6 separate regions of the Homo sapiens genome follow, and regions 1, 3, 4, 5 and 6 are each reported to be linked to region 2. Evidence: microRNA targets listed by miRTarBase, many of them from high-throughput screens and not tested one by one. Region 2 holds a microRNA gene; each other region holds the end of a gene's coding sequence.
What was found. The annotated mature microRNA hsa-miR-15a-5p reads UAGCAGCACAUAAUGGUUUGUG and lies in region 2 at 1,411-1,432, opposite strand. An mRNA with a match to its seed (bases 2 to 7 or 8) in the 3' UTR can be bound and repressed. Matches are read on the target gene's strand: a 7mer-m8 pairs with bases 2 to 8, a 7mer-A1 pairs with bases 2 to 7 and ends in A, and an 8mer does both.

Region 1 (3,000 bases), not on the chromosome of region 2:
AGTTCTGTTTTGAACACCAAGATCAGACACAGCCCCCTACACAATGGTAAATACACACATTTGCATACACAGGAAATCAAAATACACAGCACAACAGGTCTCTGGGACATGAAAGCCGTCATCCTGGCTATGCAGAGCCCCCGCCCCTGGCAGTCAGCAGAGACCCTGTCCAGGCTGAAGGCCAGCACAGCATCTCCTTTACTGTCCTGTGCCACCTCTGCCCTCTCTGATCTTTCCCAAAGGCCAGTTCACACAGAGTCACCAGCAATAGGATACACAGAAACAGAAAAGGGCACGGCACATGACAACTTCGCGGTCATAACTCCCAGGAAAAGGAAATGCTCCCTGAACCCCCAGCCCTGAAATCCCCAGTAAGGAAACAGGACCCGCGGCATCTCACGGACCAGGCAAACATCCAGGCCTAACTGTGCCCTGGCTGTGCCTTGGGCCCAGGTGAGCCCATGAGAGCACTACGTCAGCAAATGGGGGGAGCAGTATTTCCCTTGGTTCTAAGAATGAACCACATACTTGACATGAATGAGAAGGTAACCAAAAAAAAAAAAAAAAAAAAAAAAAAAACAACAAGAAAAGGTAGAGTTTGGTTTTAAGAGTAAAATAACACAGAAGTTACCACTCAGGGCATTTGTCTGATTTCTTTTAAGGCACTTTGGAAAAGTCAGGATCTGCGGACAGAAAGAGAGGCTTTCATTCTTCTTATTTCCCACAACTCCCTCTCAATGCAGTCATTTCTAGTTTTAATAATATCCTTGGTATAGAGTGGGGAACTGACAGAGAAATACTTTTTGCATAGTCCAGCTGCTTCTGCAATGGAAAATAATTTTTAACCAATACAAAGGCTTCTGGAAAAAGAACCAAGTTAGCATCTGAGATGCGCAAAGCAGTAAAGGCACAGATAAGACTGGGGCCAGGCACCAGCTCAGCCTCCACACTGAGGGCTGGTACCCAGGAGGGCAGTGGTTTGGGGTCCGCCACGAGCACAAGGCTCAACCCTGGGATTAGGCAGCTGAGTCTTGGAACCTGAGCCCAGGCTGGACCTGGCAAAGGCGCTCAGTGGTAGGAGTGCCTTGTGTCATCTCATCCCAGGTGGCTCAATAGCTCCCAACAGAGGTGGGTTTGTGACAGACAGCCCTGTGGGTGGGAGCCTCAACTGGGGTGGGAGCACCTGTGAAAACCTGAGGTGGAACAGGAGGCTTTAGGCACCGAAGTTCTTGGGAGGGAGTTGGGGTGTGGGTTCGGCTGAACTTCTTTCTAGATCACTAATTAAAAGGCACATTCATGCTGGGGAATGGATAGTCTGTTTGACCCTGAGTGCCACAGTCAAGTTTTAGGGGACAGGCAAGAGGCAAAGGAACAAAAAGGGAGACGAAGGAAGGAATGAGAAAGGCAGGGGAAAAGAGGAAGGAGGAAGAACTGGTAACAAAGGGTGGGCCACGGAGTGTGGCTAGCAGAGCCTCTGAGGGAGGTGGCCCCCACCAGAACAGAGGCTCCCTCTGCCTGGGGAGGTGCAAAGGGCTGGTAAACAACCTGACTGCTGTTATTTACAACCCCCCAGCCTAGGGGCCTGAGGGGTCAGTCTAAGGAGGCTGAGGCTCCCTCCGCCCTGCCCACCTGGGGAGGGTTGGGGAAGTGGAGAGTTCTGCACAGTAGGTGCAGAGGCTTCTGTCTCCCAGGTATCCTCCCCGAGGTCTGGCAGGATAATGCTGACCGGGAGGCCTTACCTGCCAAGGGGCCAGAGGGTGATTTTGCTCTTGAGAAAACCTGGCCTGCCAGCTAAATCATAGGCCTATTTGTGGCCACTACAGCATATATTTATTTTTCTCCCTAAAAAATGCTCAATACCCCTCCCCATATTTAAAACACCACAATAAAAATACATAGGAAATTCAAGTTTACATAGCATGCCAAGAAAAATAAATTGTCATGACTTAACATTAAACAGCTATGCAAATTTGGATCAACACAAAATCAAGCTAGATCATAATTAGAACTCGATCTGTTCTTTCTTTAAAATACTACAAACTACTATTTAAAAAAAAACACAACAACTTTACATTCAGAAATCAGACAATCTGGAGATAGGCCACTGAATGCGAGAAACCCAAGGCTTTTGCTCTGATGCTAGAGTTGCCCTGGAATCCACACACATAGGACAAAAGGTCCAGGGCTCAAGTTTTAAAATCCTTTTGCTAAGAAAAGACATATGCACAGTGATTGCAGTGGTTGCATACCACTGAAAGAAGGGGGTGGGGGGAGGACGTAACATTAAGAATGGTTGAAATTTTGTGTTTTTCTGTTAAATTACAACTACCAAAAAGATCACACCAATCCAATTTTAGCAGCACTCTCCGAATTTTCACGAATAAGAAAACCATAATTTAAAGAAAAATTCTAACCTATTTCACGACAATTTAGCAATTCTATCACCGGGAATGTGTTCCACGGCCACCAAATTTTGGGATGTGTACAGTTCTGACTCTGGGGTGACACTGCGAACACATCAAGAAACCCGCAAAGGCATAAACACCTTGCAGAGCTAAGAATTCACATGCCGAGCCAAGTTGGGGGCAAAATATCCCACTCGTCCTGGTCATCTGGAAAGCCATCTGAATGATGAGCGAAGGGGACCTGTCACTCAGACTGGTAAAAATGAGAGGGACCAGCCCAGCAGATTGGCAGAGACACACAGCAGAGGTCCCTGGCTAATTTCAGGTCTCTTATCCGTGTACCAAAACGCTAGCTCGGTGTCCCGATGTCCACTGTGATTTGGGTATACAATGGGTATCTCTGTACATCCAGCACCTGGTAGGTGAGTGAGTTCAAACCATCAGAGAGCATTGTCTCCTTTGTGTGTGCAATTCGGTCAAACCTACAAGGAAAAGAGCACAAGGAGATTGTCTTAAAACAAAAATCTTAAGAAGAAATCATCACACGTACTTCCTCCTCCCTCTCCACTGTAACCTGACCACCTCAATTTCCCTC
Region 2 (3,135 bases):
AAGTGCTGGGATTACAGGCTTGAGCCACTGTGCCCAGCTCTACTTTTCTTTTCTTTTTTTTTTTTTGTTGAGACAGAGTCTCCCTCTGTCACCCAGGCTGGAGTGCAGTGGTGCGATCTCAGCTCACTGGAAGCTCCGCCTCCCAGGTTCATGCCATTCTCCTGCCTCAGCCTCCCGAGTAGCTGGGACTACAGGCGCCCGCCACCACGCCTGGCTATTTTTTTTGTATTTTTAATAGAGATGGGGTTTCACCGTGTTAGCCAGGATGGTCTTGATCTCCTGACCTGGTGATCCGCCTGCCTCGGCTTCCCAAAGTGCGTGAGCCACCGCACCTGGCTGTCTACTTTTATTTTTAATAAAAAATTTTAAAAATACAAAAAAGTAAAAAAAAAAATTAAATTATGTTGACATTTTATATCAATAAAACTACAATGATAATTTGGTCTTACTCTGAGTTAAATCTTGAATACAAAAAAGTAAACAAAGTAAACAAGACCTTATTTTTGACTTATCAAACAAAAATCTTTGGCTAAGGATTTAAGAAAACATTTTAATAAAAACATGAAAAAAATAGTATACCATTATAAAGTTAGAAGACATAAGACTAAGACCCCAATCTGTGATGTGTAGCAAATTATTTGAGTTTTGTGTTTCCTTAGCTATCCAATGAGTGGGTTGGTCACTTGTAAGGGTTTTTCTACCTTTAAAGTTATGGTTAAGTGTGACGTTTTGACAACCAGAATTTTAGGTATTTAATTCACATATTTTGATGGCTTTTCCCCTTCAGATATAAAGAAATATTCAGAAACAGTACTAAATATTGTCTTCTAAGCTCTGTTCAAAATGCTTAATATATTTTATATTTATCTGTAAAGACATATTTTAAAAGTAATTTCAAAACAAAGGGAAAACTAGAATTTGTTTTATCCCAAGTAAAAATCTGAATTAATGTCTATGTTGAATATAAATGTGCATTAAAATAAATTCCTCTAATGCTGCATAAGCTTTTTAAAAAAACTTGATGGCATTCAATACAATTATTAAATTGCAATTACAGTATTTTAAGAGATGATACATCTGAAAAATTAGTATTAATTCATTTTTACAGAATCATACTAAAAATAACAAGATTATCAATAATACTGAAAAGACTATCAATAAAACTGAAAACACATTAGTAACATTAATATACATTAAAACACAACTGTAGAGTATGGTCAACCTTACTTCAGCAGCACAGTTAATACTGGAGATAATTTTAGAATCTTAACGCCAATATTTACGTGCTGCTAAGGCACTGCTGACATTGCTATCATAAGAGCTATGAATAAAAAGAAATATATTTTCTTCAGAAGATCAGATCCTTGTATTTTTGAGGCAGCACAATATGGCCTGCACCTTTTCAAAATCCACAAACCATTATGTGCTGCTACTTTACTCCAAGGTTTTATTTTTTTTAAACACACATTCGCGCCTAAAGAATATAAAAAATATTTTCTTTCAGGAAAAAAAGAATGCATGTAAAAAAATCTATGTTTAAACATTATAACATTGATGTAATATGCATAATTATTTTTAAGGAGATTTTAAGTAGAATAATAAAACATTTCTACATCAAAAACTTAACTGAAGTCCATTCTGTGCCCAGCACAGTGCTATAGGTTAGGAAACACAAAGAATAAAATGAGGAAAAGAAAAGCATTTATTTGCTATGCCAACTTAACAGGGCAATACAACTAAATGCTTAAACTTTTGAATATATTCAATATATGAAGTTATTTTTCCTTGTATAAACAAACAAGTAAATTTATAAAATTTGATCTTTACCTTGGTAAAAGGAGAATTTACAAACATTTTGTTCCTTGCAGTACACCTTTCAAAAGACATCTTCATCAAATAGGTAAGACTTCACATCAAGGGAAAAACATGAAATGACATACAAGAGCTCAGTTTCAATAAACTTAAGCTAGCAAAATGCAAATATACTTTTAAAGAAAAATACTTTAATTCTAAATGTTAATTTTATTAAATATCTAATTAAGACATTTTAATTCCAAATATAGTTAAGAAAAAAAGCTCTAAACAAACTAATTCTCCCTTAAATAATTTGTTATTAATAATCTAAATATTTTACTTTCAACATTGATCTTCATACTAGAAGTTCTCTTAGAGTTGGATATCATTTGATACAGTAATTCTAAAATATGAATCCTTAAGTAATTCTAAAATATGAATCCTTGGGATGATGAGTTAATTTGGTACCCTGAGATGAGAAATAAAACAAATCCCATAGCTCTTAATCTTCCTATTCCCTGTTTCTGGCCCATTTACCAGGTAAGGAAGAAACTCCTAGTTTCCACTTTCTCAGATGTAGAAATGAAATTCCTTTTCTCTAAAAGATATCAGAAAATTGCCACCACTCTAGTGGTGCCACCATTCAAGCCTGGACAATCTTTTTTGCCCCATGTTCTCATCATTAAAATGACTATGCTAAAGTTACATCTATTACAGAATAGTAAGGTGATGTACACAACCAAAGCACTAAAATTTGCTCTTCCATTCTAATATCTAATTACTTATACAAAGCACAGGGTCACATTCCATATGAAATTTTTCTGAGTATTTTTCCCATTAATAAAAAATATATGTAGCTAATCTCCTATCTAAGCAACCTGGATTTCACATATAACTCTGCTCCTTATTGTCTCAAGTTTCTGCACAACGTTTTTTAAATTTTTATTTTTTCTTTTTTTAAGAGAGTAGTTTCCGTATCTTTTAGAGAAAAAGAAATTCATTTCTACATCTGAGTAAGTGGAAACTTTAGGAGTATACTTCCTTACCTGGTAAATGGACCGGAAATAGGTAGGGAATAGGAAGATCAAGAGCTACAGGATTTGTTTTACTTCTCATCTCAGGGTACTCTGTTGCCCAGGATGGGGTACAGTGCCATGATCGTAGCTCACTGCAGCCTTGACCTCCTGGGCTTAAGTGATCAGTCCACCTTAGCCTCCCAAGTAGCTGGGACTACAAGTGCACACACCACCATGCACAGCTCTTTACATTTTTATTTTATTGTAGAGACAAGGTCTTGCTATGTTGCCTAGGATGTCTTGAACTCCTGGCCTCAAGCAATCC
Region 3 (3,133 bases), not on the chromosome of region 2:
CTCAGCGAAAATAGTAACAATCTTGATAAACCAGATTTTTGCCTCTCCTTTAGTGGAGAAAAACGGCCGAGCTGGGTTTTAGACAAACGCCTTGGAGTCCGAATGTTCAGTCCAACTACCTGCATTCAACTTGAGCATGCACCGTGGAATGGCCATTCATGGCCAGAGGGATGACCTCTTTTGCTCTATAGTTGAAAACTAGCTATCAGAAGGGGGTTAGCAAATTCTAGAGCTTTTTCTATCCAGAGATCACCGCTGACCCTAGGCATTTTGCTCGAGTTTGACTTTATGAAGCTGTGTTGGTTGAAGCTTTTCACCCTCGGAATGTACTGTTTCTGGTCAGGTTCCTTCTATCCGTGTTTGCATTTGGAGCAGTGAACTGACACATTTTGTCTATCTGAAAAGGTATGGACTACCAGTGAACTTCCAGGCAGTGCTCCTGCAGCCGCATAAGAAGTCATCCACCAAGCGTTTAAGAGAGGTTCTAAACTCTGTCTTCCGACATCTGGATGAAGTAGCCGCTACAAGTATACTGGATGTAGGTATCCAGAAACAGCAGTATTTCTACAGTAAGCTCAGCATCTTACTTTCAAAAAACTGGTATCTGCCTGTAATCCCAACACTTTGGGAGGTAGGTGGATCACTTGAGGTCAAGGGTTTGAGACCAGCCTAGCCAACATGGTAAGACCCTGTCTCTACTAAAAAAAAAATTGGGCTGGGCATAGTGGCTCACGCCTGTAATCCCAGCACTTCAGGAGGCCAAGGCGGGTGGATCACGAAGTCAAGAGATGGAGACCAACCTGGCCAACATGGTGAAACCCTGTCTCTACTAAAAATACAAAAATTAGCTGGGTATGGTGGTGTGTGCCTGTAGTCTCAGCTACTTGGGAGGTTGAGGCAGGAGAATCGCTTGAACCTGGGAGGCGGAGGTTGCAGTGAGCTGAGATCACGCCACTACACTCCAGCCTGGCGACAGAACAAGACTCTGTCTCAAAAAAAAAAAAAAAAAAAAAAAAAAAAAAAAAATTTGCCAGGAGTGGTGGTGCATGCCTGTAATCCCAGCTACTTGGGAGTCTGAGGCAGGCAGTGAGCTGAGTCCAGCCTGGGTGACAGAAACTGTCTCAAAAACAAAACAAAGCAAAACTATCTGTCAGCCTGTTATGAAAATCTACATGTCATACACATTAAAGCACAGCAAGGAGAGGGTTGGAGGGGTGGACCACAGCTACGCAGAGCAGAACGTACGCTCAGTGCCTGGCGAGCTTCCTCAAAACTAAAAGGATAAGACAGGAAACTAGTTTATGCACTTAGAGCATTACCATGTCTTCTTTTGTAGGCATCTGTGGAGATCCCGGGACTGCAACTCAATAACCAAGACTATTTTCCTTATGTCTACTTCCATATTGACCTTAGTCTTCTTGACTAGAAAGGCCAGCTGGCACCTCTGTCTCATGTTCGTGCAGATTATTACAGACACCTCTTTCCTTTAGCCAGAGAATGGTTCAAATGTCTTACAGAACTAAGATCTTTTTCAGAGAAATTGCTCACAAAAGTTAGTGACAGTTGTATTTATTTTTTTAAGTTACAATAAAATGCTCTCAAGTCCTTTGAATGTTCCAACAAATTCAAAACTTCATTTTCTGAATGTTTTACATAAATGCGAACTACCTGTTCGCATTGGTAACCTGCTGCTGTATTTCATGTCTTAACGGCTATTTTGAGGTTCATTAACAACATAGAAAGCCTTGAACTGTATAACCAGCTAGATTCCTTAATAATTAGTCACTAGAGACAGCCCAAAGACAAATATTGGGCAGGAAATCAGTTCTCACTGAGCCCGGTTTCCATGTAAAATCTCTGTTGTGGTGGGCATAGGTGGCACCATCTAAAGAAAAGAGGTCTTGTTTTTTGTTTAAAAAAGTTTGTGGGGAGGAAAGACATCTGTGTATCACTTCAAAATATTGATTTACTGCTAAACATCACTCTGAATTTATGATGTGGATACTAACTTCATACATTTATCGGCATTGTCCAAAATATTTTATTCTTTAATGGAAAAAGCCATTAATATTCAAATGAAGGGATCACATTAAAAAAAACCCATACATAAGAAACAGCCTCCAAGAACATTCAAGCAGCAGTCAGAGAGAAAAATGTTTCGACAGCCAAGTTTTCTTCAAAATATTATGTGACAGAATACGACTCAATTCACCGGCTACAACAATTCATAGAATTTTTCAATGTTTTCTTGAGATGCAAAAGTTCACTGTTGCAGTGTTTTCAAATGACCAATCAAGTACTACTTCTTGGTTAAAAGGCCACTGGTAGAGTCATCTGAGTGTAGAGAATGTCCCTTCACTGCTGGAAAAATCCACTGGCTCCCAAGAAAAGAAAATGGTCTGAAGCCTCTGTTGTGGCTCTCACAACTCATCTTTCCCTAAGTCATCAAGCTCCACATCACTGAGGTCAATGTCATCCTCCACGGGAAGCTGGGAGACGACAGAAAGCCACTGTTAGATCTGCAGAAGGGGACACCCTGGAAGGTCAACATCTCATTTTATGGAAGAGCGACTCTCTGGAGCTACTCCTGCTACAATCCAGGTTCTCCTCAGTCTGACTCCTACCCTGACCTTCGTACCTATGATTATACGGATGGAAAAGCTCAGAACTCAGGTGAAACATTTCAACATCACATCACTCACCATTTTAACACTGGAAGCCACTTGAACGTGTCCTTTTGAGGAGGGTGGGACACAACAGTACAGAAATAAGTGCTAATTTCAAAGCTATCATTTTCTATTTTTCTAAGATAAAGTAAATGAATTCCAGGTTAAATGTTCACTTTAAGGTAATAATCAGGAAAGCAACCTTACTACTGAAATGTATCTTGGCTGTCAAGAGTATCAAATGCCATGCAGCACTTAAACTTGTGATAAGGAAGATGAAGGGTCTTCAGAGAAGAACCTCTTAAAAGGCCCACGGGTGCACCAGGGCTGAGGTCTGATGGGAAGGACTTGACTCCAGGTGCAGAGATGCACAGGCTCAAGAGAGTAAACCAGGACTGCTGCCCGCACAGCTTCCCTCCCGGGCACTCACCTCGCCATCCCTGCCGTCCCAAGGCTCTCTCTCAACG
Region 4 (3,135 bases), not on the chromosome of region 2:
CTACCTTAAGTCCTGGATAGCCTAAAATGGGCAAAGTCTGGCCTTGTTCACAAATGATGATCCAAAACATTAACCACAGTTCTCCTTCTCTTTAGTATCCAAGACCCTGAAGTTGACTCAAGGAATGAAAAGAACAATCAGATCAGCATGTATATAATATCATTGGCCAACTTCTTCAAGGTATGGATTATTTAAAAGTACACATGGAAGTAAAATGCTTACTCAAACCTGAATAAGAAGTTTCTTGTAACTCAAGCACTTCTTGACTCACACTAAGTGTAGCACTGTAAACAAAAGACATCGTTGAGAAACTGAGGCTATCAAAACATTGGCATCTATGGGAGTTGTGGCCAAGGAAATAAAATACCTGAGCAACCTTATACCCAGTATGCATTTCATACCAGGATCAAGTCACTAATGACAGCCAAGTTCCAGGCTTATCTATGGCTGCCTAATGAGACTGGCCCCACTAGGATGGGGACTGGGGAGGGGACACACATGAGTGCCCAAGCTTCAGTCTACACCTCCCCCCTTCAGCCAGAAGCAGCCAGGGGAGCACAGGGACATCTGCTTCAAGAGCATTTTGGCAGCAAAAATCAATACTCTGTGGTTCCTGGAATTCCCACCCAGTAATTCCAAGTTCAAAATTACCACCAGTGCAACATGAAAAACTGTTAATAGTTTTTAAGTAAAGTGTACATACAGCTTTAATAACGATTATAATCTGAAGAAAGCCATTCTTCTTATACAGGATGGAAAATCCTCAAAGCAACATTTTAAACCATGGACACTAGAGTTGTCATACATCTATTCAGAGATGAGAGATAAACAGACATCCTTCCATGTGGAAACAGACACTCCCATGTCAACAAGTCCCCTAGGATCAGAGAGAAAAGCAGACCCGTGGTCATCACTAGGTGTCTCTGGTGTCTCGCTAAAGATGGAGTCCTATGTAGGTTGGCCTAAGTTGGCCTCAGAGGGAGGTGGCTGAGCAGCAAAGCAAGACAGCATGTGTGTAACCAGCCAGGCAAAATAACAAGTCTGTGCTACCTGGAGTGTATTTTCAGGAAAACAGGACCATATGGAGTGTGGGGCAGGGACATTCGCTGTGCTAAACTGCCACTGTAAAAGCACACTGTTGAAAGCATGCAGGACAGAAAACTGCAATAATTCAGAGCTTGAAAACAAGAAATAACAGAAATATGAATATTTCAAATACACACTTCATATACTGAAAATAAGAGCATTTGAAGAAAGGCTGGAATGGGTTTTCCAAAGACTCACACATTTTGGGGTTCCAAATTCAATGTTCTAAGCTTCTCTATCACAAAGAGATCAAGAACAAAAGCAAAGCTGGGGGTCCTGGCCAGGCTGAGTGGTACCTTGAGCCGGTCCCTGTGTCCTGAGGGTCCCTGGGCCCCATATCCCATCCATAACCCAAGTCTGCTCAGCTACAGTCTGCCCTGGTGCTCAGTGAACAGCCACAGAGTCCCACTTCTGCACAGGATGGGCCTTCAGAGTGATGAGAGAGCATCTCCCGCACAGTGCAAACCCCCAAAGGCCAGAAATGGGAACGCTCTAACTAAGGCTCTCCTTCCACTCCCTCACTGTTCCTTTAATATTACTCTCTCAGCAAGTAGAAAAATAGGCTATAAGGAGGCTTAGGCAGACACACACTCAAACAGCCTCTTGGAATAAAGCAAATCTGCCTCCACATACTTGTTTGTATATTGTTCTGGCTTCTCCAGGATTTTTTTTTTTTTTTTGAGACAGAGTCTCACTCTGTCACCCAGGCTGAAGTGCAGTGGCACTATCTTGGCTCACTGCAAGCTCCGCCTCCTGGGTTCACACTATTCTCCTGCCTCAGCCTCCCGAGTAGCTGGGACCACAGGCGCCTGCCACCACGCCCAGCTAATTTTTTGTATTTTTAGTAGAGATGGGGTTTCACCGTGTTAGCCAGGATGGTCTCGATCTCCTGACCTCGTGATCCGCCCGCCTCGGTCTCTCAAAGTGCTGGGATTACAGGCGTGAGCCACCGCGCCCAGCCAGCTTCTCCAAGTTTTAAAGGATTAAAGCCCTCAAACTCTCAGGCTTAAATCAATTCCTAATGTGGGATATGTTCTCCAAGTATGCCTACCAAAGCCATACAAGAATAAAGTGAGCAGCAGCAGCAGCTAGGGTCAGGCAGATTTCTGAAGCATGATTGTTCAAAGGCGGGCTGTGCCCCATCATCCTGAGCCATCGGCCTTGCCAGGGGCCTGTGGAGCCCCAGAGGGCAGGACGGGGGCTCTCACACCATAGCCTCGGGAAGTACCTGGGAGCTTACCAACCCACAACTCCTAAAGTAACATGCAACCAGTTCTGGTCTGTGGTTTGAAAAAGTTAAACGCAAAGAAGCTGTAGCTTTTCTTGCCACAATCACTCAATAGGCATACAACACTATATTACTGGCATAACATGAAAATAAATTAACCCTTAAGCACTACACCTAACTCTAAAAAGAAAATGCCTTTCAAAACAGGTATGCTCAAATAAGGTATTCTGAGAGTTGCACAAGAACAGTCTTGGAATGAGCCAGTGCCCCCGGAGAGTCAACATTTGAACAAAATAGCACAGTTCAAACCCTTCTCTGTGGTACTTATGTGGATTAGTACAATTATGACATCACTACTTTCAAAGGAATGATTAAAACTATTATTAAAAACTTTTGTCACAAACAGAAATGCCCTGCAAATCATATTATTGCACACAGGGTTATCAGAAGCTATGCACATCAAGACCTTGAGGCCCCTAGAAGACCCAAAATAGAGACCCTAAGGCCATGCCCGTGGCTGCTCCTGCCAGCATGCCCAGTGCCAGGTCGCTGTCGTTGTCTCGATAGCGCTCTCGAATGATGACTTGGTTAGCAGGCTGCTGTCCATAAAGTCCTAAAAGAGAAGGAAAATAGCAGATTTCTGAGCAGCGGTTTGTGAAGTTTAACATCACGCAAAGTACCAGTTCTCCTTTCACAAAAGGGATCTGCTGTCTCCTGTCACACTGGCGACCCAGCCCTCCTCCACAACAGGCACATCATGTGGCCGACATCCCTGAAACCGCACACTGGGAGGAAACCAAGATCCTCAGCTCACTAAGGGC
Region 5 (3,079 bases), not on the chromosome of region 2:
CCCTTAAGGAGTGGGAGGGGAAGTGAAACGGGAGGGGACTCCGCCTTTTCAATCACAAAAGTCATGAGAGTAACCTGGTTCCTCTTCCCTGCTCTGGGACAGGTACAGCCAAGCTGATGCTCTCAAGTACGTGGGGATCGAGAGGGAGACCGACGTCCTTTAGCCCTCCCAGGCCCCACGGCAGCACTTATGGTAGCGGCACTGTCTTGGCTTTCGTGCTCACACCACTGCTGCTCGAGTCTCCTGCACTGTGTCTCCCACACTGAGAAACCCCCCAACCCACTCCCTCTGTAGTGAGGCCTCTGCCATGTCCAGAGGGCACAAAACTGTCTCAATGAGAGGGGAGACAGAGGCAGCTAGGGCTTGGTCTCCCAGGACAGAGAGTTACAGAAATGGGAGACTGTTTCTCTGGCCTCAGAAGAAGCGAGCACAGGCTGGGGTGGATGACTTATGCGTGATTTCGTGTCGGCTCCCCAGGCTGTGGCCTCAGGAATCAACTTAGGCAGTTCCCAACAAGCGCTAGCCTGTAATTGTAGCTTTCCACATCAAGAGTCCTTATGTTATTGGGATGCAGGCAAACCTCTGTGGTCCTAAGACCTGGAGAGGACAGGCTAAGTGAAGTGTGGTCCCTGGAGCCTACAAGTGGTCTGGGTTAGAGGCGAGCCTGGCAGGCAGCACAGACTGAACTCAGAGGTAGACAGGTCACCTTACTACCTCCTCCCTCGTGGCAGGGCTCAAACTGAAAGAGTGTGGGTTCTAAGTACAGGCATTCAAGGCTGGGGGAAGGAAAGCTACGCCATCCTTCCTTAGCCAGAGAGGGAGAACCAGCCAGATGATAGTAGTTAAACTGCTAAGCTTGGGCCCAGGAGGCTTTGAGAAAGCCTTCTCTGTGTACTCTGGAGATAGATGGAGAAGTGTTTTCAGATTCCTGGGAACAGACACCAGTGCTCCAGCTCCTCCAAAGTTCTGGCTTAGCAGCTGCAGGCAAGCATTATGCTGCTATTGAAGAAGCATTAGGGGTATGCCTGGCAGGTGTGAGCATCCTGGCTCGCTGGATTTGTGGGTGTTTTCAGGCCTTCCATTCCCCATAGAGGCAAGGCCCAATGGCCAGTGTTGCTTATCGCTTCAGGGTAGGTGGGCACAGGCTTGGACTAGAGAGGAGAAAGATTGGTGTAATCTGCTTTCCTGTCTGTAGTGCCTGCTGTTTGGAAAGGGTGAGTTAGAATATGTTCCAAGGTTGGTGAGGGGCTAAATTGCACGCGTTTAGGCTGGCACCCCGTGTGCAGGGCACACTGGCAGAGGGTATCTGAAGTGGGAGAAGAAGCAGGTAGACCACCTGTCCCAGGCTGTGGTGCCACCCTCTCTGGCATTCATGCAGAGCAAAGCACTTTAACCATTTCTTTTAAAAGGTCTATAGATTGGGGTAGAGTTTGGCCTAAGGTCTCTAGGGTCCCTGCCTAAATCCCACTCCTGAGGGAGGGGGAAGAAGAGAGGGTGGGAGATTCTCCTCCAGTCCTGTCTCATCTCCTGGGAGAGGCAGACGAGTGAGTTTCACACAGAAGAATTTCATGTGAATGGGGCCAGCAAGAGCTGCCCTGTGTCCATGGTGGGTGTGCCGGGCTGGCTGGGAACAAGGAGCAGTATGTTGAGTAGAAAGGGTGTGGGCGGGTATAGATTGGCCTGGGAGTGTTACAGTAGGGAGCAGGCTTCTCCCTTCTTTCTGGGACTCAGAGCCCCGCTTCTTCCCACTCCACTTGTTGTCCCATGAAGGAAGAAGTGGGGTTCCTCCTGACCCAGCTGCCTCTTACGGTTTGGTATGGGACATGCACACACACTCACATGCTCTCACTCACCACACTGGAGGGCACACACGTACCCCGCACCCAGCAACTCCTGACAGAAAGCTCCTCCCACCCAAATGGGCCAGGCCCCAGCATGATCCTGAAATCTGCATCCGCCGTGGTTTGTATTCATTGTGCATATCAGGGATACCCTCAAGCTGGACTGTGGGTTCCAAATTACTCATAGAGGAGAAAACCAGAGAAAGATGAAGAGGAGGAGTTAGGTCTATTTGAAATGCCAGGGGCTCGCTGTGAGGAATAGGTGAAAAAAAACTTTTCACCAGCCTTTGAGAGACTAGACTGACCCCACCCTTCCTTCAGTGAGCAGAATCACTGTGGTCAGTCTCCTGTCCCAGCTTCAGTTCATGAATACTCCTGTTCCTCCAGTTTCCCATCCTTTGTCCCTGCTGTCCCCCACTTTTAAAGATGGGTCTCAACCCCTCCCCACCACGTCATGATGGATGGGGCAAGGTGGTGGGGACTAGGGGAGCCTGGTATACATGCGGCTTCATTGCCAATAAATTTCATGCACTTTAAAGTCCTGTGGCTTGTGACCTCTTAATAAAGTGTTAGAATCCATTTTGGCAAGTTGTGTACTGTGTGCTTTGGGGCTGGAAGGATCCAGGGATGGGGTCCAGGAGCAGGTTGGGCCGAAGCATCAGCATTCTGATCCCCACTTACCCACTGAGATCTGGGAAAGGGGGAGATGGGGGTTCTGGCAAGAGCCAGTCAGTCAAGTCCCTGGAAGGTGATGCAAGGATTCTGAGAGCTCCTTCTAGAAATTCCTGAGCCCTCAGATTAGTTCCCTTAAAATCATCCCACTTATCCCCTAACCACGACGCCAGCTACCACACACAGACTGGGGCTCTGCCACTCTGCTTTATTGGAACGGCTCCGCGTCTGAGAGCACAGCAGGCTCAACCCTGCTTCAGAGTGGAGGCCGGACCAGGCTGGTGGGTGACCAGCAGGACTCACGACACTTCCAACACAGGAAAGGCAAACTACAGACTGTGGGCACAGCACAGCACAGGACAGCACAGCCAATTGAGCTTTTCTTTTATATATAAACAAATAATTTAAAAATTCGAATAATATATAGAGTTTCTCTAGAGAGACACTTTGCAACAAAAAATATATATAAAGAATATGACCTCCTGGGTAAATGAAGCAGCATCTCTGAGCGGAGGAAAGAGGGTTCCTCATGCACTGGAGGGGGCGAAGCCTTTGGGCAGGCACAA
Region 6 (3,135 bases), not on the chromosome of region 2:
AGTAATGTTTCTATACTTGTGGATATTCTGTTAGACATGGTTATCTCATTCACATTTAAATGCCTAGAAGCCTTTTTTATAGCTGTTGTAAAAGTTTGTCTTTATTAGCCATATGTATTACAATGGTGGTTGGTTTATACACATTTTTAACCTTATAATAATAGCTACACACAGACCTACTGAAGGAGCAAAAGAAATATTAAAATTTTACGTCTAAAAAATAAGTTTTATTAGTGAATATCAAGTTTTGATTTGTTTATGAAAGGCATTCAGAGACCTGTGCAATAATTAAATTTTTTTTTCCTCCCCAGAATTACCTCTGGACTACAAATTTACAAGATTCTCTTCAAGCAATTCAAAAACAGCTGGCTACTATCCAAATCCTCCACTGGTCTTATCAAGTGATGAGACACTGATATCCAAATAAGTTGTCTTTACTGAAAAATGAAGTGAAGACCCATATATGCAGTTAAAAAAAAGTTAATTTTCAAAAAATACTGTAAAAGACTTTAAGGAACAAGTTTTATTGACCAATAAGTTGATATTTGTCCATAGGTCTCCTTTCTATAAATCATCTTGATGTTTAACAACTCTTATTATATTAAAATCTCAGTATCCTAAAACTTAGAACCTTATTGATATTTTCTATACAGTAGTTTTGTGATTAGAATTCACCTGGGGACACACACTCACACGCACAGTCACTCTTACACATATGCCTAGTCCAGTGGTTCTCAAAGTGTGATCCATAGACTAATAGCATAGCATTACCTGAGAACTTGATAATGCATATTTGCAGGCCCCACGCAAAACCTGCTGAATCAGAAGCTCTGAGAGTAAGGCCTACCAATCTGGTTTAACAAGCCCGTCAGGTGATTCTGATTTACAGTACAGTTTGAGACCCACTGGCTAGAACATATCCTCCAGAGACTTGGCTTAATTGGTCTGGGTAAATATGGCTGAGCGTTGTTATCTTTTGTTATCTTTTATATGCCCTAGGAAAGTACAACCAGAATTGAAAACCAACTGATCTATACCAGTTCTTTCAATTAATAGTCAAGAACATTGAGTCCAGTGAGATTAAGTGATTTTTGCAGGCTATGAGGTTTTATGCTATTCCTGTGTTCTCCAAAACAAGAAAATAAAAAGACATGACTTATTCTCTGTTCATACAGCAAGTATGGAAAAAAGATGATCTAGAAGTCAACTATCTCAACCTCCATTGTTACCCACTAGGTTTTTTTCTAATAATGTTAAAGGCTATTTAATTTATTTAATCAACTTTAAGCATTACATTCTCAATTGGGGACAAAAATTGGTTCTTGGGGTGAAAAAATATTAGATATGGCTTGTGGACTTCCAATATCATCCTATCCAACAAAATCTTATTCCTTAGTATTAATTTATCTCATTGGGAAGAAATTTGTAGTTAAAACTATTTAATGTAATTTGAATTTAATTTCTGTAATTGGGAAGGAGGGTAATAATGAACAAAAAGTTTGAGAAAAAAATGCTTTAATGGGTTTTACAGGCATGCTACAATCCAGGACTGTGGTGTTCTATGTGCCGTGTATGGTCATATTAGTAGCTATTTGTTGCAAGATACTTGAAGCCAAATGTTTGCAGTATAGGTTCCTGGCTACTGTTTATGCTGTGATTTCACTCTGTCTATCATGGGCAGTATTAGAAAACACACTGGTTTTCACTATCTGGTTTACAAACACTATCATTATTTTACCTGGATTGAAGTGCAGAATTTGGCATATCGATGCATGCAATGGAAAGAAAAAAAATTTGTTAAAATTTGTAAATGTTCAGCTAAATCTCAGATATACTGTGGGATGAGTATCTCAGGGTAAGTAACAAAAAAACAAACAAAAAAAATCACTGAAATTTTTCCCTCACAGTCAGTAGCTTTGTTTGATATTTAACAATAAGTATATGGTGATATACTTGAAATTTATGTCCAGAATGTCACTGGAATATTACAATGAGCATAAATAATCAAGCTTAGGACTAAATGAAAGATACTATCTCATGTATGCTTTAAATAGAGAATTTATTTCTTTTAAAAATAAAGCTATCTTTCCTTATCCATGTTTACTCTGTAAATGGCAAATAATACATCTTTAAATGCTTATGAACTACTGTTAATATGAAAAATGAGAAGTCCAAAATAAGAAATAACTGCACTTTTTGGGCCACTTGAGTAGTGGCGGGGGTTCAGGAGGCAGAATTCAGTTGTCAGAAGTTCTAGTATTCCCTTTATCATTCCACCTAAAGACCCTGAACAAGTTACCACCAAATTTGGCTTCAGTTTTTTCCATCTTATGAAAGGAAAAGTTTAGTTTATTTCTAAATTTCCTTCCTTTCTAGCAGTCAGTATTTCTTCTAATGAATGTTTTTTTTCTGTAATTAGAAAGACTATAATTAGGCTTTTTAAATTTGTATTTTCATTCTTTGTAAAGAGTGCCAATGGATATGAAGATTAAAAATAATCCAAATCCATAAAAATTAAAAAGAAAATATTAAAGAAGTTATATGAAGCAAAAAAATTGTATAAATGGACAGAAGACATGTAATATTCGCATACAGGCAAACATTCATAATCTAAAGGACACCTAAAAATAGATGTAAGCGAGCGGAGGTTTTCTTTGCTGGCCACTGTTTATCGCATCAGCAGAGGAAAGATCTGAATGACTCAGTGACCAAATGTTTTGTCAGAATCTGGTATTTGGAATACTGAGGTAGTAAAAACTTTATCTGAACCATGAATTACAATCTAAAATCAACTTCTGAGTTTGTTAAACTCTAAACTGAAATCAAGTATTATTTCCCCACCAATATTCATATCCAAAAATAACTTTAAATACACACACACACACACACACACACACTTTTAGTGAACTGGTTTGAATGAAAATAAATTTATATAATTATTTTATATAACAAATCAGCATAAAATGGAAAATCAAACTGCCTCTCTAGATATAATAACCTTCACTGACTGTTGGAAATACATGGATAGCTTTTTAAAATCTTCAGTGTTGGAGTAACAGTCCCTTACATCTTTTCAGCCTCTTGAGTACAAGAAGACTATCATAAGAGTTAGTTCCAGATTGGTGCAAGACTGGA

Region 1: miRTarBase lists B4GALT1 as a target of hsa-miR-15a-5p. Seed matches in the 3' UTR shown: 8mer at 2,355-2,362.
Region 3: miRTarBase lists PDIA6 as a target of hsa-miR-15a-5p. Seed matches in the 3' UTR shown: 7mer-m8 at 2,134-2,140.
Region 4: miRTarBase lists PLEKHB2 as a target of hsa-miR-15a-5p. Seed matches in the 3' UTR shown: 7mer-m8 at 2,167-2,173, 7mer-m8 at 2,164-2,170, 7mer-m8 at 2,161-2,167 and 7mer-m8 at 991-997.
Region 5: the mRNA of EZH1 is a reported target of hsa-miR-15a-5p. Seed matches in the 3' UTR shown: 7mer-m8 at 229-235 and 8mer at 995-1,002.
Region 6: the mRNA of NT5DC1 is a reported target of hsa-miR-15a-5p. The part of its 3' UTR that is shown has no 7-base or 8-base seed match.

The regions. Positions count from the first base shown.
Region 1 is chr9:33,110,700-33,113,699 of GRCh38, forward strand. B4GALT1 (beta-1,4-galactosyltransferase 1) reads right to left here. Exons shown (of 6, transcript NM_001497.4): 6 at 1-2,887. The coding sequence ends at 2,755. Among named protein-coding and RNA genes, the nearest start is that of MIR12117, 3.5 kb to the left of the region's middle. RefSeq lists an enhancer at 892-1,491.
Region 2 is chr13:50,047,757-50,050,891 of GRCh38, forward strand. It overlaps MIR15A (microRNA 15a), which reads right to left and starts at 1,445; the gene lies at 1,363-1,445. DLEU2 (deleted in lymphocytic leukemia 2) reads right to left here. Exons shown (of 14, transcript NR_152566.1): 6 at 1,828-1,906. MIR16-1 (microRNA 16-1) reads right to left here and starts at 1,305; the gene lies at 1,217-1,305.
Region 3 is chr2:10,781,838-10,784,970 of GRCh38, forward strand. It overlaps PDIA6 (protein disulfide isomerase family A member 6), which reads right to left. Exons shown (of 13, transcript NM_005742.4): 12 at 3,097-3,133; 13 at 1,554-2,489. The coding sequence ends at 2,421. ATP6V1C2 (ATPase H+ transporting V1 subunit C2) reads left to right here. Exons shown (of 14, transcript NM_001039362.2): 13 at 406-538; 14 at 1,337-3,133. The coding sequence ends at 1,426. Among named protein-coding and RNA genes, the nearest start is that of PDIA6, 29 kb to the right of the region's middle.
Region 4 is chr2:131,146,429-131,149,563 of GRCh38, reverse strand. PLEKHB2 (pleckstrin homology domain containing B2) reads right to left here. Exons shown (of 8, transcript NM_001100623.2): 8 at 1-2,927. The coding sequence ends at 2,791. Among named protein-coding and RNA genes, the nearest start is that of PLEKHB2, 43 kb to the right of the region's middle.
Region 5 is chr17:42,699,616-42,702,694 of GRCh38, reverse strand. It overlaps EZH1 (enhancer of zeste 1 polycomb repressive complex 2 subunit), which reads left to right. Exons shown (of 21, transcript NM_001991.5): 21 at 103-2,420. The coding sequence ends at 163. It overlaps CNTNAP1 (contactin associated protein 1), which reads right to left. Exons shown (of 24, transcript NM_003632.3): 24 at 2,702-3,079. Among named protein-coding and RNA genes, the nearest start is that of MIR6780A, 7.0 kb to the left of the region's middle. RefSeq lists an enhancer at 2,811-3,079 and a cis regulatory region at 2,811-3,079.
Region 6 is chr6:116,243,598-116,246,732 of GRCh38, forward strand. It overlaps NT5DC1 (5'-nucleotidase domain containing 1), which reads left to right. Exons shown (of 12, transcript NM_152729.3): 12 at 312-3,135. The coding sequence ends at 427. Among named protein-coding and RNA genes, the nearest start is that of TSPYL4, 8.9 kb to the right of the region's middle.